Regions from separate parts of the Homo sapiens genome. Here region 2 is linked to region 1. Evidence: fine-mapped expression QTL. A gene starts in region 1. The other region holds a variant in brackets. All regions are shown on one strand. Distances are from middle to middle. Region 1 holds the start of NUP62 (nucleoporin 62). Region 2 overlaps NUP62 (nucleoporin 62).

What was found. PIP is the estimated chance that this variant, and not a neighbour inherited with it, causes the effect.
Region 2: its variant is fine-mapped to the expression of NUP62 in whole blood (INTERVAL, PIP above 0.99).

What each region holds. Positions count from the first base shown.
Region 1 is chr19:49,924,608-49,932,607 of GRCh38, reverse strand. It overlaps NUP62 (nucleoporin 62), which reads left to right and starts at 3,104. Exons shown (of 3, transcript NM_016553.5): 1 at 3,104-3,282; 2 at 4,793-4,914. ATF5 (activating transcription factor 5) reads right to left here and starts at 3,403. Exons shown (of 3, transcript NM_001193646.2): 1 at 3,208-3,403; 2 at 1,580-1,876; 3 at 1-186. The coding sequence starts at 1,757. It also overlaps a transcript of IL4I1 not described here. RefSeq lists silencers at 2,614-2,663, 3,514-3,573.
Region 2 is chr19:49,902,387-49,911,202 of GRCh38, reverse strand. It overlaps NUP62 (nucleoporin 62), which reads left to right. Exons shown (of 3, transcript NM_016553.5): 3 at 1,319-4,378. The coding sequence starts at 1,396. The coding sequence ends at 2,964. It also overlaps a transcript of IL4I1 not described here. Among named protein-coding and RNA genes, the nearest start is that of IL4I1, 9.9 kb to the right of the region's middle. RefSeq lists a silencer at 749-828 and enhancers at 2,566-3,287, 3,929-4,048. The variant G/A (reference allele first, on the strand shown) is at 3,448.

The DNA of each region.
Region 1 (8,000 bases):
GGGGCGGGGCATCTAGGAAGAAGTCTTCCATCTGTTCCAGCTCCTTCTTGAGGAGGGAGGCCATAGCTTCCAGGTCAGGTGGGGTTGGGGAAGGTTGGGGGAGGGTGCCGGGGGGTAAGGGAGGCTCCAGAGGGAGGAGAGCTGTGAAATCAACTCGCTCAGTCATCCAGTCAGAGAAGCCATCACCTGGGATTAAAGTGGGGAGGGACACAAAATTCCCTGAGTTGCTGGTCTTCTGCGTAGTTGGGTGCTGACTCACGTCTCATTCAGGTGCATCTGTCCCATTCATTCAGTAAAACAACTAACCACTGAATCATCAAACCAGTCAATAAACCAACAAACCAGTGAAGAAACCAATAAACCAGTCAACGAACCAACCAACAATCAACCATCTAACCACCCAGTCAACCAACCAACCAACCAACCAACCAATGAACTAGTCGACCAATCAATCAGGGAATCGGTCAACCAACCAAATAAATCAGTCAACCAACCAATCAACCCATTAATCAACCAATGAACCAGTTAACCAAAACCCAACAAATTAGCCAATGAAAGAATCAGTCTTAACCCATAAGAGGGTCCAGGAGAAAAAAAAAATTAAAAAAGAAAAAAAGAACCAGCCAACCAACCAATGACTCAAGCAACAGTCAACCAAGCATTTCTTCAACCATTCCAACATCTCCTTTACCGAGTACTCTGTATCTGTGGTGTCTCTATTCTCTCTTTTTAAAAGGCAAACTAGATCACATTACACACACAGATACACACGCACATATGCCTTGTTTCATCTTTACTCATTAATTATTGAAAACCCACTATGTGCCAAGCATTTGGGATACAGTAATGAATGAAATGATTCCTGCCTCCTGAGGGCTTCTGCATATACAGTTCCCTCCAACTAAAATGCTCTTCCCTTGGGTGTTTTCCTCATTCCTTCCCTACTTTTTTTTTATTTTAAGGGATAGGGTTTCACTCTGTTGCCCAGGCTGCAGTGCAGTGGCATCATCTTGGCTCACTGCAGCCTAGACCTCCCAGGCTCAAGCGATCCTCCCACCTCAGCCTCCCAAGTAGCTGTGACTACAAGCGTGAGCCACCATGCCTGGCTAATTTTTTTTTTCCTATAGATATGAGGTCTCGCTATGTTGCCCACGTCCTGAACTCCTGGACTAAAGCAATTCTCCCCGCTTGGCCTCCCAAAGTGCTGGGATTACAGGCCATCATGCCTGGCTTCCTTCCCATCATTTATGCCTCAGTCAACATGTTACCTACTTGGAGAAGGTTTTCTGGCTACCCATTCTATATTAGGTCCCCTTTGTCATTTTGTAGCTCAGCTGCTAGGTGTTTTTGACTTATTCCAATACACTCTCATTTAATTTATCTCTGGTCTACTCCCCACAGTGTGAGCTGCTGGAAGGCACAGACCATGTTCTTCTTGTTCCCAGCCGTATCCTCAGCACCTAAAACAGTGCCTGGCACATTGTAGGCACTCAATATTTATTGAATACATGGATGAGTTCTTCCTCCCCCATCTTCCCCTGCCCTCCACTCCCCAGCTCCACCTTCCACCTGCCCTTACCTGCCAGGGGCTCTCCCCCCACTGGAAGCCCGCCCTCCAGGGCTCCCCCAAGGACCTCATAGGGAGCCAGGGGGGCAGGGGCCGGGGGGAGTTTCCCATAGTCTACGAGCCATCCCAGCCCACTAGCTGGGAGCAGGGCCCTGTCCAGCTCCAGCCCCAGGGTCGCCAGGAGTGACATGGCTGTAGCACAGGTGCTGGGCACTGATGGCAACAGGAGAGGCTGCACCAGCAGCTGGCACGAGGCTCTGGAGGATGCTCAGGTGGGCGAAGACAGGCACCAAGGCGAAAGTGGAAGACCTACACGCGTGAGACAAGAGTGGGTGTGGTCAGGACAGCGTCATCCACCGGCCAAAATCAAGGGGAAGCCAAGCCACACCCCCAGGCACGTCCATGAGGCTCCTCCCTCCCCCTTCCAACCACCGTTTAGAACACTAAGCCTCAGCCTCTCCGAATTCTAAATTTGCCCTTTCTTTACCCAAATCTCTGAGCCCCACCCACTCCCAAGGGAATTTCTTTAGGTCCTAAAGTAGGACCGATGCCCCACCCCTTCCCCCAATACAGAAAAAAAAAACCTAAAGGTCTCCCAGGGGAATTACCTTAGGCCCCTCCCATCCACCTCAGAATATTTCGCCTCAAGGAAAAACTCAATCCCAGGGACATTTTCTTCCAGCCACGCCCCTTCCTCTAAAATATTTCCTTTTGGCCCCACTGCCTTCCTAGCTTCCATCCCAAACCAGTTCCCAGGGGAACTGCCCCAGGCCGCAGCCCTTCAGCAATGTTATCCACTCAAATCCCACTCCTCGCTCTGCCGCTGCCCCTCCAAGCCCCGCCCCTCATTGTTTATTTAGCTCCGCCCCTCCCCCGATTCCCCAGAGGCCCCGCCTCTTTGTCACATCGAAACCCCACCCCTCAACTAACGGTTGGTTTAGCCCCGCCCCTTCTCACAATGTGCTTCCGAAATCCCACCCATCGTGACGACAGTGGTTCTATCCCCACCCACTTAGAGGGTTGCCTCTGGGTCCCGCCTTCTGCCCTGTCAATCTAAGCCAGTCCCCGCCTCAGCAGGTGCCTGGTTTAAAAGGAAGGAAGCTGGGCTGTGAGCCAGAGCAACGTGGGGCAGGGAGGGTGGAGGAGGGTAGAGGGGGCACGCGGAGAACGGCTACCCGAACGCCACCCGTCCACACGCGGCTCTGCGCCGAGGGCCAAGGCGCATGCTACGTCGCCCGAGCGGTCCAATTGCCTTTACACCTCCGCCCTCTTGGGGATCAATGCGCATGTGCGGCCATTCAGGGTCCGCAGCTCTTTCACTACGGGGCACTGGTGGGCTACTGCGCAGGAACAACCAAGCACGAAGAATCGTTTAGAAAAAAAAAAAACACACCCTCCCCTGGAGTGCTCAGGCCCAGCTGCACGCGGGCTGACAAACATCGAGTCTAGAACTCTCCCACCCGGCCCCGGGCCCAGTGCGCATGCGCAGCCGCGCGCCTTCGGCCCACCGTACTACTTCTGCGCCTGCGCGACCGTGATTCCCCGCTCGCGACTCCCCACCCCCCAGGGCTCCCTAAAGAGGGCCACGAGCTGCGAAAGGGCGGGAAAGGCAGTTGGAGAAGAGGTAAGCGGTTACTCACTCCATGGCTGCAGCAAGGAGAGGCGGCGGCGGCCTCGGCTGAAGAAAGAAGGTGGGAGCGGAGAGCGCAGGCGTGGTGAGCGCGGAGACGGGCCGGGGGCACAAAGGGGTCGAGGCTACAGAGCCATGGCCGGGGCTACGCAGGCAGAGGCGGCGACACTGTAGTGAGAAGAGACTGTGATCCGAGGACAGGGAATGAGGCGGCCCCGGGGACTGGGGACAGATATATACTGGGTGGCGGAGCACGGCCCTCCCGGATCCTTCCGCGCCCCGCCCTCGCGCGGCCCCAACCGGGAGGCAGCCGGGTCCCCTCCTCCTGGGGATCAGGGGATCCGAGCCTTTCCTTCCCACTCCTAGGGTCCGGGACCCTCCTCCCTCTCAGCTGGGGATCCGACCTCTTCCCTCTGAGCCGGGGATCCAGCCCTCTCCTTGTGGCTCCGGGGTCTGGTTTCCTCCTCCTGACTCTAAGCTCTGGTTTCTTTCTCTTTCTGCCTCTGAGGTCTGGGCCTGCTTCCTCCTGTGATTTTGAGGATCCAGCCTCATTCTCTTCCCGCAGACCTGCACCAGTTCATTTCTCTTTCCCTTTCCTTGCTTGCAGAATTTCCTGCCAGTCACTTTTCACTTCTTCATCCCCCAGCTGCTGACTCTGAGAAACCCTCGTGGGTTAGAGTCCAGCATGAGTCACAGCACTCTCCCAAATACAGACCTGCCAGGATGGCCTCGGGCAAATAACTTAAGTTCTCTTACTTCATTTCCCTATCTGTAAAATAAGAAAAATCAACTCGCCTGGTGGGTTTATGAGACTCAAATAAGACGATGTCTGGCAAGCCTTATGCACAGAGCTCAACTCATACATTCCTGTTCAACTGTTTTTTTTTTTTGAGACGGAGTCTCTCCGTCTCTGTCGCCCAGGCTGGAGTGCAGTGGCGCGATCTCGGCTCACTGCAAACTCCGCCTCCCAGGTTCACGCCATTCTCCTGCCTCAGCCTCCCGAGTAGCTGGGACTACAGGCGCCCGCCACCACGCCCGGCTAATTTTTTGTATTTTTAGTAGAGACGGGGTTTCACTGTGTTAGCCAGGATGGTCTCAATTTCCTGGCCTCGTGATCCGCCCGCCTCGGCCTCCCAAAGTGCTGGGATTACAGGCGTGAGCCATCGCTCCCGGCCTCAGCATATTTTATTAATAGGAACTCTGGGGCCCAGTCTCATTTCTTCCTTACCACTTGTAAGAGCCGCAGACGTTGGACTGTCCAACACCTGCTGTCATTCTTCTGTCTCCCTCATCCCTCTAAAGTGTCTGTTTCCAGCTATCCTCATCTTCCATTCCAAATGATGGGTGCCCAGGCCCCATCCCCTGGCAGGGATTCAGACATCGAGGCCCCAGCTGCGTCCTTTTCTCCATCCCTTGCCCTTGGCTTCCTTTCAAACCGTCCTTCAGCTTCCACTGGATAGGAACTATCTCCCAACCCTGCCAAAAATGGAAGATCTCCGTTTTCGTTTAGTCACAGGGTAGCCATCTTGCCCCTTCTCATGCACTGGGCCCTCCTCCACCAGCCGAGGTGGATGTCCGTCTTTTCTCTGTTGCAGAAACCCACCTTGTCCCATCCACATCAGGACATCCCAGCTGGAGTTCAACCTTCATCCCTTCTGTGGCAGTTAGGAGACTGAATCAAGGTCCAGAGAAGGTGGAGGAATCCTGATACTGAGCGGTACACACAAGCTTCTTTCTCCTTCCTTACCTGTTGCGGGCAGGAAGTCCTTCTTGGGATCTGACCACCTTCCCTTAGAGCACTTACTGTCCACTCTGCCAGTTTTTGAGCACTTGCCCTATATTTTCTTGGGCCTATAGGGGCTGTGTTATCACTGAGGCAGTATACAGAGTAGCAGCTAAGAGCATAGACTGAGCTTGTCCCACCCGTGGGCCTGCATGCGGCCTAGAACAGCTTTGAATGCAGCCTAACACAAATTTGTAAACCTTACCAAAACATGCGAATTTTTTGCGATTTTTTTTTAAGTTCATCAGCTATCAATAGTGTATGTTATGTGTGGCCTAAGACAATTCTTCAATGTGGCCCCAGGAAGCCAAATTTTATACATACCTGGCATAGACTCTGGAGCCAGATTATATGAGTTCAAAACTTGACTGCACCCCTCTTACTAGCTGTGTGACCCTGGCCATTTCCCTTCCCTGTGCCTCAGTTTCCCCTGTGGTACGAAGTGGCATTAAGAATACCTACCTCTGGACCAGGCACGGTGGCTCATGCCTGTAGTCCCACCACCCTGGGAGGCTGAGGTGGGCAGATTGCTTGATCTCAGGAATTCGAGACCAGCCTGGGCAACATGGTGAAACCCTGTCTCTACCAAAAATACAAAAAAATAGTCGGGTGTGGTGGTTTGCACCTGTGGTCCCAGCTACTCATGAGGCTAAGGCAGGAGGATCACTTGAACCCTGGGGTGGGGCGGAGGTTGCAGTAAGCCGAGATTGTGCCACCACACTGCAGCCTGGGTGACAGAGTGAGACCTCGTCTCAAAAAAAAAAAAAAAAAAGTACCTACTTCTTAGGGCTGTTACAAGGATTAAATGAGTTAATCCGTGTCGAGCAGTTAGACTAACGCCTGGGACACAGTAGGTGCTGCATAAAAGTGGTTATTGTTATTGCTGTAATTAAGGTGGATGTGTTCTCATTCCATTGCTGTATAGATTTTTGAACAAAAGCAGATGGAATTAAGGGTAGACTGTTGGGCAGACTGCCAGTGGTAAGGACGCACAGACGTGCCCTATCTCCCCCGCCCCGCCGGTAGAATCTTTTCCTACGAAGATCTTCTAGATTGTACATGGGGACTGGGTTTGGTTTGGTTTGGTTTGGTTTTTTTGAGACAGAGTCTTGCTGTGTCGCCCAGGCTGGAGTGCAGTGGCATGATCTTGGCTCACTTCAACCTCCACTTCCCAGATTCAAGCAATTCTCCTGCCTCAGCCTTCCAAGTAGCTGGGATTACAGGCGCCCACCACCACGCCTGGCTAATTTTTGTATTTTTAGTAGAGACGGGGTTTTGCCATGTTGGCCAGGCTGGTCTTGAACTCCTGACTTCAGGTGATCCACCCACCTCGGCCTCCCAAAATGCTGGGATTTACAGGCATGAGCCACCACACCCAGTCTTAAGCAAGACCTAGCTTTTTTTTTTTTTTTTTTTTTTGAGACAGAGTCTCGCTCTGTTGCCCAGGCTGGAGTGCAGTGGCACCGTCACAGCTCACTGCAACCACCGCCTCCCAGGTTCAAGCCATTCTCCTGCTTCAGGCTCCAGAGTAGCTGGGATTACAGACATGCACCATCATGCCTGGCTAATTTTTATATTTTTAGTAGATACAGGGTTTCACCATGTTGGTCAGGCTGGTCTCGAACTCATGACCTCGTGATCTGCCTGCCTCAGCCTCCCAAAGTGCTGGGATTACAGGTGTGAGCCACCGTACCCAAGGGGGTTATTTTTTAAATAAAATTTTTTATTTTGGAATAATTGTAGATTGACTCAACAGAAAAGTTGCAAAGATAATACGGAGAATTTCTGTATGCCCCTCACTTGGTTTTTTCCATTAACATTTTACATTACTTTGCCACATTTGTCACAACCAAGGCAACATCAGTATGTTACCATTGACCAAATGCCATTCTTGATTCTGACCACACTTGATGCTGATTTTGGTAGTTGTTACTTAATGCCCTTTCTGCTCCTTCCGGATGCCTTCAGGATGCCACGTTATATTTAGGCATCATGGCTCCGCAGCCTCCTCTGGCCTGTGACTGGTTTTAGACTTTCCTTGTCCTTCATGACCTTGACAGTTTGGAAAAATGCTGGTTGGGTATTTTATGGAATGTGCTTCCATTTGGTTTTGTCTCAGACTGGGATTGCGGGATATTGAGAGGATGGCCAGGTAGGATGCTATTTTTTTTTTTTTTTGGCTTTTTTTAGTAGAGATGGGGGGGAGGGTCTTACTATGTTGCCCAGGCTGGTCTTGAATTCCTGATTCCTGGGCTCAAACGATCCTCCTGCCTCACCCTCCCAAAGTGTTAGGATTACAAGCCTGAGCCACTGTGCCCGGCCTGGGTTTTTTGTTTTGTTTTGTTTTTTAATTTTTTTGGTTTTTTGAGACGGAGTTTCACTCTTGTTGCCCAGGCTGGAGTGCAATGGTGCCATCTCGGCTCACCGCAACCTCTGCCTCCTGGGTTCAAGAGATTCTCCTGCCTCAGCCTCCCGAGTAGCTAGGATTACAGGCATGTGTCACCACACATGGCTAATTTTGTATTTTTAGTAGAGACGGGGTTTCTCCATGTTGGTCAGGCTGGTCTCGAACTCCCGAACTCAGGCGATCCACCCGCCTCAGCCTCCCAAAGTGCTGGTATTACAGGCGTGAACCACCGCGCCTGGCCCGGTGTGGGTAATTTTTAATAGCTTGGTCAGTAGGAGAATTGCATTGCTGGCTATGTGCGGTTTATGCTGGCTGCAGAGGTGTCTGGGCAGGGACTCTGCTTCCCCTCCCCACCGTTTTGCCGCCTTTTCTCTCTAGCTATTGGGTCCCACCCACTTCAGCCCAGCCAGACTTAGCAGCTGGACTCAGGGTGAGTGGGTGCCAGTTGGCACCCTTAGCTCTCCAGCCCCTCCCAGCCTGTTCTAGTTCATAGCCGGTCATCAGTGGTTGCCTGCGACCCTTCTCCCCAGATCTTCGAACCCTGAGTCCCCTCGTGTGCACATTCCTGACCCAGGCCTGTGGCCCCTTCAGGACTCATGTCCTGGCCTCCCCC
Region 2 (8,816 bases), 22 kb after region 1:
CTGATCATCTTTAGGGCTCACGCCTGTAGTCCTGGCACTTTGAGAGGACAAAGAGGGAGGATCGCTTGAGCCCAGGAGTTGAAGACCAGGGCAACAGAGTGAGATCCCATTTCCACAAAAAATAAAAAAGATTATCCACGCATGGTGGCATGCACCTGTAGTCCTAGCTACTCTGGGAGGCTGAGGTGGGAGGATCACTTGGGTCCAGGAGGTTGAGGCTGCAGTGAGTTGTGATCATGTCACTGCATTCCAGCTAGTATGACAGAAAAAAACCCTTTCCCAAAAGAAAAAGAAACCACCCCTATTCAGCACTCCCTCTCACCCTTTCCTCACCAGGTAACCTTTGACCTTCCTGCTGATAGATGGCACCACTGGGAGATTTTTCAGTTAGACATTACCAAAATCAAGTCAGTTTGAACTGAATGGAAATACTGTGGCCCATGGGTCTTCTGGGGTGCTCTTTATCCCTCCCCCACCCCCACCCCCACCCATCTCTGGTGGGGCTCATGGTCTCCCGTGATGTCCCAGTGTCTGCAGATGGTTGAGAAGGTGTCCAAGGGAGGCCCAGGTGCAATCCTCCACACCACACCTACAGGTGAAGGAGGCAGCTGCCTTCCAAGCCTGGAGAAAACCCCAGGGGAGGCTCCGATTGCCTGGCTCAGGTCTCAGTTTATCCTTGAGCCAATCACTGCAGCCAGGGGCATCTGTGCTCTGAGCACATGGGTTTCAGACCCTCCCCTGAGTTAGGAGGAGGAGTTCCAGTGTCCTCTCCTGCTCTTAGAGAGTGCAGGTGTGGGCCTGGGGGGCCTTCAGCAACCCAGACCCTGCCATCCAGCCTGGGTTCCCGGCCCCATCTCTCTCTCTGAGGTCCAGAGAGGCCCTCAGGGTGGCAAGAGCTGATCCGCTCACACCCTGCTAGAGTCAGCCAGGGAACCTCACTGGGTCCCACGCTGGGAGCAGGTCCTACAGCTGTTCTTGTGTGTCCTAGTCCCGCTTGTGGCAGTGCCTCAAATCTGATCTCCTCAGGCTGAGGTGGGTCCAAGGTCCTGTTCTCCCGCCTCGTCCTCCACAGAGTGGGAGCTTTCCACTGGGCTGAACATGGCCACGCACGTCCCTAGCACCCCGGCTCCTCGTACCTGACCCCTGGGGCGTGCTTTTGTGCTTCTGGATCCTTCTCGATGTAGCAGAGCCTAGTTTAGGTTACACAGCATGCATCATTATCCCATCCCACCACCCTCCAAACCGACTGTGCCCAGTCATGCCACTGAGCTTGCCTTTCCAAAACTGCCATCTGACAATGTCACTTCCTCTGCTTTAGAAATCTTCCCAAGGCTGCAGACACCGACGGATTTGCTTTGGGAGCCAGAGTAGCTGCCGCCACCAGAGTCCGGAGCCATGAGCGGGTTTAATTTTGGAGGCACTGGGGCCCCTACAGGCGGGTTCACGTTTGGCACTGCAAAGACGGCAACAACCACACCTGCTACAGGGTTTTCTTTCTCCACCTCTGGCACTGGAGGGTTTAATTTTGGGGCTCCCTTCCAACCAGCCACAAGTACCCCTTCCACCGGCCTGTTCTCACTTGCCACCCAGACTCCGGCCACACAGACGACAGGCTTCACTTTTGGAACAGCGACTCTTGCTTCGGGGGGAACTGGATTTTCTTTGGGGATCGGTGCTTCAAAGCTCAACTTGAGCAACACAGCTGCCACCCCAGCCATGGCAAACCCCAGCGGCTTTGGGCTGGGCAGCAGCAACCTCACTAATGCCATATCGAGCACCGTCACCTCCAGCCAGGGCACAGCACCCACCGGCTTTGTGTTTGGCCCCTCCACCACCTCTGTGGCTCCAGCTACCACATCTGGAGGCTTCTCATTCACTGGTGGAAGCACGGCCCAACCCTCCGGTTTCAACATTGGCTCAGCAGGGAATTCAGCCCAGCCCACGGCACCTGCCACGTTGCCCTTCACTCCGGCCACGCCAGCAGCCACCACAGCAGGTGCCACACAGCCAGCTGCTCCCACACCCACAGCCACCATCACCAGCACTGGGCCCAGCCTCTTTGCGTCAATAGCAACTGCTCCAACCTCATCTGCCACCACTGGACTCTCCCTCTGTACCCCTGTGACCACAGCGGGCGCCCCCACTGCTGGGACACAGGGCTTCAGCTTAAAGGCACCTGGAGCAGCTTCCGGCACCTCCACAACAACATCCACCGCTGCCACCGCCACCGCCACCACCACCAGCAGCAGCAGCACCACCGGCTTTGCCTTGAATTTAAAACCACTGGCGCCAGCCGGGATCCCCAGCAATACAGCAGCTGCCGTGACCGCTCCACCTGGCCCTGGCGCAGCTGCAGGGGCGGCTGCCAGCTCCGCCATGACCTACGCGCAGCTGGAGAGCCTGATCAACAAATGGAGCCTGGAGCTAGAGGACCAGGAGCGGCACTTCCTCCAGCAGGCCACCCAGGTCAACGCCTGGGACCGCACGCTGATCGAGAATGGAGAAAAGATCACCAGCCTGCACCGCGAGGTGGAGAAGGTGAAGCTGGACCAGAAGAGGCTGGACCAGGAGCTCGACTTCATCCTGTCCCAGCAGAAGGAGCTGGAAGACCTGCTGAGCCCACTGGAGGAGTTGGTCAAGGAGCAGAGCGGGACCATCTACCTGCAGCACGCGGATGAGGAGCGTGAGAAAACCTACAAGCTGGCTGAGAACATCGATGCACAGCTCAAGCGCATGGCCCAGGATCTCAAGGACATCATCGAGCACCTGAACACGTCCGGGGCCCCCGCCGACACCAGTGACCCACTGCAGCAGATCTGCAAGATCCTCAATGCGCACATGGACTCACTGCAGTGGATCGACCAGAACTCGGCCCTGCTGCAGAGGAAGGTGGAGGAGGTGACCAAGGTGTGCGAGGGCCGGCGCAAGGAGCAGGAGCGCAGCTTCCGGATCACCTTTGACTGAGCGACAGCAGCCCTGGGGCCCGCAGGTCCCTAGGGAGTTCATGAGGGGAATGCGCCCTGTTGTCTGTAGTTTGGGGTTGTGGCAAGATACTTGTTTGTTTGTTTCTTTCTTTCACATGACTGCCCTTGACATGATCGCTGTGTGCTTTGCGTTTTTCCATTTAGGAGGGTATTCTGGGCCTTCTGCCCAGGCAGCAGCCTCATGGGTGTGGCTTCTGTGGCTTTCATTTGAGTATCTTTGGCCCCTTTTCACCTACTGCGACCACCCACCTCATCCTGGCTCAGCCTGGTGATGGAGAAGTGCTGATGGTCTTGGTCCCAGCCAGGGTCGTGGGGGCAGCCACTCTCTCCAAAGCATAGTCATAGGTGTCATGAAAAAATACCAAATGTAAGAGAACCTCCAAGTCAGGGCGCAGTGGCTCACCCCTGTAATCTCAGCACTTTGGGTGGCCAAGGCGGGCAGATGACTTGAGGTCAGGAGTTC[G/A]AGACCAGCCTGGCCAACATGGTGAAACCCCGTCTCTACTAAAAATACAAAAATTAGTCAGGTGTGGTGGACGCCTGTGATCTCAATCTCAGCTACTCGGGAGGCTGAGGCAGGAGAATCACTTGAACCCAGGAGGTGTTGCAGTGAACCAAGATCACACCACTGCACTCCAGCCTAGGCAACAGAGACTCTGTCTCAAAAAAAAAAAAAAAAAAAAAGAAACTCCCAGGAGACAGCAGCCTAGTTTTCGAGTGTGAGCTTGTGCTTGTGAAAGCTAACCATGCTAACCACCAAGGCAAAGCAGCACAGTGTGAATAGAACAGAGCGGGATCAAGAATTTCACAGAAGACAGGTCAGCTGAGGGGCCTGCACACACAGGGTGTTGAGGAACCACAGATGGGCGCCGAGAGGCCTGCCTTTTGCCTGGCCCAGGCTCACCCCCACCTTGGGCCTCACCTCCTCCAGGAAGCCTTCCCAGCTACCCGAAGCTCAGGTGGCCTTCTTGCAGGTCCCCGTAGCACCCTGAGCCTGTACCTTGGGTGGCACTTGTTATGCTATCCTGTGCTAGCCGTTTGTGCCTCGTCTCGCTGTTAGATTGTGAGTTCCCATGGGCAGAGACCCACTGTCGTTCCCCGTGTGTCCCCAGCCCGGTCCCTGTCACATTTGTTAAATGAAAGAACAATGAAGCCCAGTGTAACGTCAGTCCACAGAAATAGCCACAGCTTCCAGTGGTGGCCGTAGACTTGGCTCGGAACTTAGTGGCACCAGAGTAACTCTAGTCAGTTACAGTAAAATCCACTGTGTGTGGAAGGCAGAAGCTAGCGGTTGTATCCCAAGCATCTTTTGTATTTGTCTTTATACTTTGCTGAATTCTCTGAAATACCTATTACTGTATGTTGCTTTTCTAAATAAATGTATTGTGAAACCAAAACAGCTGCTGTTAATATGGATAAATGTTAGGAGGAGAAAGCTGAGTAAAAAGAGCAGGTTCCAGGAGACTCTGCAGGGGTGCCATTCACATGAAACGCACAGGCAAGCAAATGAAGTAGTGCTTGCATAGACATAGGGGTATGCGATGAAGCAGCTTTTGTTTGATGAGACAGAGTAATAGACAAATGCAAATCGTGGTTTGCTCCAGGAAGGGGTGGTGCTAGTGGTAGAAGAGGAACACACGAGTGAAGCCGCCACGGGGAGTGGGCTCCAGGTGTTTTGTGACAGTTATGTCGTAGAATATACACAAATATGGCTGGGCGAGGTGGCTCACACCTGTAATCCCAGCACTTTGGGAGGCCAAGATGGGCAGATCACTTGAGGTCAGGGATTCAAGACCAGCCTGGGCAACATGGTGAAACCCCGTCTCTATAAAAACTACAAAAAAGTTTGGTTGTGCGTGGTGGCACGCAACTGTGGTCCCAGCTACCTGGGAGGCTGAGATGGAAGGATCATTTAAGCCCAGGCCTTTGAGGCTGCAGTGAGCCATGATCACACCACTGCACTCCAGCCTGGGCGACAGAGCAAGACTCTGTCTCAAAAAATATACACACATGTTAAGTCATCTAGTACCATCCCTAAGGCGCTATTCCAGTGGTTACAGATGTCATGGGCAGCATTCCTTCCTGTCACCTGGGGCTAAAGACACGGGCCCAATGCTCTTCCTCCACCCTCCAGCCTCGCTCTATGGACTGGAATGGTCCTAAGCACTCAGATCTCCTGGGCTGTGGGGAGTGGAGTGTACCCCTTTGGCCTCCTGCTGCCTGTTCCATCTCAGTCTGTGGGCAACACTTGGGAGATTCATGGCCCAGGTTCCAAAAGTCTCCCGAAGTCATGATCATGAGTCATTATTTCCTTGGACCGGCCAGGTGCGGTGGCTCACACCTGTAATCCCAGCACTTTGGGAGGCCAAGGCTGGCAGAACACCTGAGGTCAGGAGTTCGAGACCAGCATGGCCAACATGGAGAAATCCCATCTCTACCAAAAATACAAACATGAGCTGGTGGCTAGTTAAGTGGCGGGCGCCTGTAATCCCAGCTACTCGGGAGGCTGTGGCAGGAGAATCGCTTGAACCCGAGAGGTGGAGGTTGCAGTGAGCCGAGATCATGCCATTGCACTCCAGCCTAGGCAACAAAAGCGAAACTTCGTCTCAAATAAATAAATAAAATTTCCTTGCACCATCTTGGGCTCTGGAGGACAAGAGTTGTGTCTAAGTAGAAACCATGGGTGTGTGTGGTGGGAGCAGTAAACCAGAGGAAGACCCCACAACCCAGCTACTTCTCTCTGAAAGCTGTCACCTACAGCAGGGACCTTTTCCTGCAGTTCATAGGCCTTGACTCATATTGTCCCCTCTGCCGGAAGGGAGGCCTTGAGTCCCCTTAGGAGGTAGGAAGCAGTTTGCATTTTACCTACATTTGTGCGTTCAGCATCCATTTTTAGAGCTGATCCTGATCTGGTGCTGGAGGTACCAAAAAATGCCCACAAGGTCGTTGGCAGGGGCCACACAATCATGATGAGAAAATTTGAGCATGTATTTCCAAAGTGTACATGTATATTTTTCCTATTATTTTGCATATTATTTCCTATTTTGTATATTAACCATTAGCAAAGCTTAATTGCTTTCTTATAGTTATATTTTTAAAATAAATTCCAGCTTTGGGAGGCCGAGGCGGGTGGATCACCTGAGGTCAGGAGTTTGAGACCAGCCTGGCCAACATGGTGAAACCCCGTATCTTCTAAAAATACAAAAATTAGGGGCTGGGCACGGTGGCTCATGCCTGTAATCCCAGCCCTTTGGGAGGCCAAGGTGGGCGGATCACGAGGTTAGGAGATCGAGACCATCCTGGCTAACACGGTGAAACCCTGTCTCTACTAAAAATATAAAAAAATTAGCCGGGTGTGGTGGCAGGCGCCTATAGTCCCAGCTACTCGGGAGACTGAGGCAGGAGAATGGCATGAACCCGGGAGGCGGAGCTTACAGTGAGCAGAGATCAAGCCACTGCACTCCAGCCTGGGCAAAAGAGTGACTCCGTCTCAAATAAGTAAATAAATAATACAAAAATTAGCCCGGCGTGGTGGTGGGTGCCTGTAACTCCCAGGTACTCAGGAGAATCACTTGAACCTGGGAGGCGGAGGTTGCAGTGAGCCAAGATCGCGCCACTGCACTCCAGCCTGGGCAACAAAGTTAGACTTCATCTCAAAAAAAAAATTTTAAGTTCTGCATTTTCTTCCCATACCCCAAAGGATCTTGAGCACCCCACTCTGAATAACACAAGTGATTCCATTAAATCAGGAGGCTCTGTGCCCCAAAGCCATGTGAGAAATGGTCCCAACAGGCCTCCTGGGGGAGTCTAGGAGGGATCCCGAGATCGCAGCAGCATCAGCAACCGACTGGGTGCCACCGCGGGTGATGGCTCCATCGTAATTTCAGTTTCCCTTTCCAGGAAGAAAATACACAGATGTGCTTCCTTCCCAGTCCTGACAAATGGCCTTTCCTTAAGTTCCTCATTAATTCATATGAAGACAACACATTTGGTGACTAAATTTGGAATCAGAGGCTTTTAAAGGTGAATCTCAGCTCTTACTGCTTTGCTTTCCCCTGTTTAGGGATAAGAGTGGCAAATGGGGGCTGGGTGTGGTGGCTCATGCCTGTAATCCCGACATTTTGGGGAGGCCAAGGGGAGTAGATTACTTGGGGTCTGGAGTTTGAGACCAGCCTGGGCAACATGGCGAAACCTCGTCTCTACAAAAATACAAAAATTAGCCTGGCGTAGTGGCTCCTGCCTGTAGTTTCAGATACTTGGAGGCTGAGGTGGGAGGATCACATGAACCTGGGAGGCAGACATTGCAGTGAGCCGAGATCGTACCACTGCACTCCAGCCTGGGTAACAAAAGTGAGACCCTGTCTCAAAAAAAAAAAAAAAAAAAAAAAAAACCCAGCACATATAACAGTATAATATGTAGTCAAACCATGAGGGAATGATGACTTTTTATTCTTTTTTAGTAAAAACTAATCATCAATACAATTTATTTTTTAGTAATGAGTGGCTTGCAAAGCAAAAACTCCTGAAAATGTAAATCAGCTCTTATGACCTGGTATGACTCAGCTTCAGCACACCACTGCTCCCAAGTTTTCAGTAAACCCCAAAAATGTCAGGGTGCTTTAAAAATCTGCCCCTCAGACTCAGGGCAGCGGCTCTCCACAGAACCTCCCAGGGAGCAAAGCCCTCACGCTCGGAAGCGAGGTCTGCTTCTTGCACAGCAGCCAGCCCCCCAGCCAGGTTTCAGTGACCCCGGCTGTTCCCCTGCCTGTCCCACAGGACCACACCCTTGGCTTCTGCACACCAGGGCCCTGGTGACTTCAAACACAGTGACCCACATGGGCGCCCTTGTCCCGTCTCCCCTCCAGACACCATCAGGTTGAACCCTCTCAGACGCCAAAGGTTTCCCGAGGCAAGAAGCAGACCGGGTGCGCTGCCGTGATGGGGACTAGCCTGGTGCCCTGGGGTCACCTCAGATACCCTAGTTCCCTTGAATCCACAGAACTGATAGTGACACTTACTGACCAAGACAATGTCACTCAAATGCAATATGGACTGTGATTTGCATCTTGACAAACCAACCGTTTTTTGTTTTGTTGTTGTTTTTTTTTTCAGAGAGTCCTGCTCTGTTGCTCAGGCTGGCGTGCAGTGGTGTGATCTCGGCTCACTGCAATCTCTGCCTCCCGGGTTCAAGCGATTCTCCTGCCTCAGCCTCCTGAGTAGCTGGGACTACAGGCGTGCACTACCACACCCAGCTAATTTTCGTATTTTTAGTAGAGACAGGGTTTTACCATGTTGGCCAGGATGGTCTTGATCTCCTGACCTTGTGATCCACCTGTCTCGGCCTCCCAGAGTGCTGGGATTACAGGCATGAGCCACCACACCTGGCCTTTTTTTTTTGAGATGCAGTCCCGCTCTGTCGCCTAGGCTGGAGTGGCATGATCTCAACTCATAGCGACCTCTGCCTCCCAGGTTCAAGTGATTCTCCTGCCTCAGCCTCCTGAGTAGCTGGGATTACAGAGGTGCCCGCCACCACGCCTGGCTAATTTTTGTATTTTTAGTAGAGATGGGGTTTCACCATGTTGCCCAGGCTGGTCTTGAGCTCCTGACCTCAGGTGATCCGCTCACCTCGGCCTCCCAAAGTACTGTGATTGCAGGTGTCAGCCACCATGCCCGGCCTAAACTGTTTTTTTGTTTTGTTTTGTTTTGTTTTTCAGTGATGAGCTATTCCAGGAAACGTGAACATTGATTTAATGATATTAAGAAATGGCTGCCATCCGGAGCTTGCAGTGAGCCGAGATCGTGCCACTGCACTCCAGCCTGGGCAACTGAGCGAGA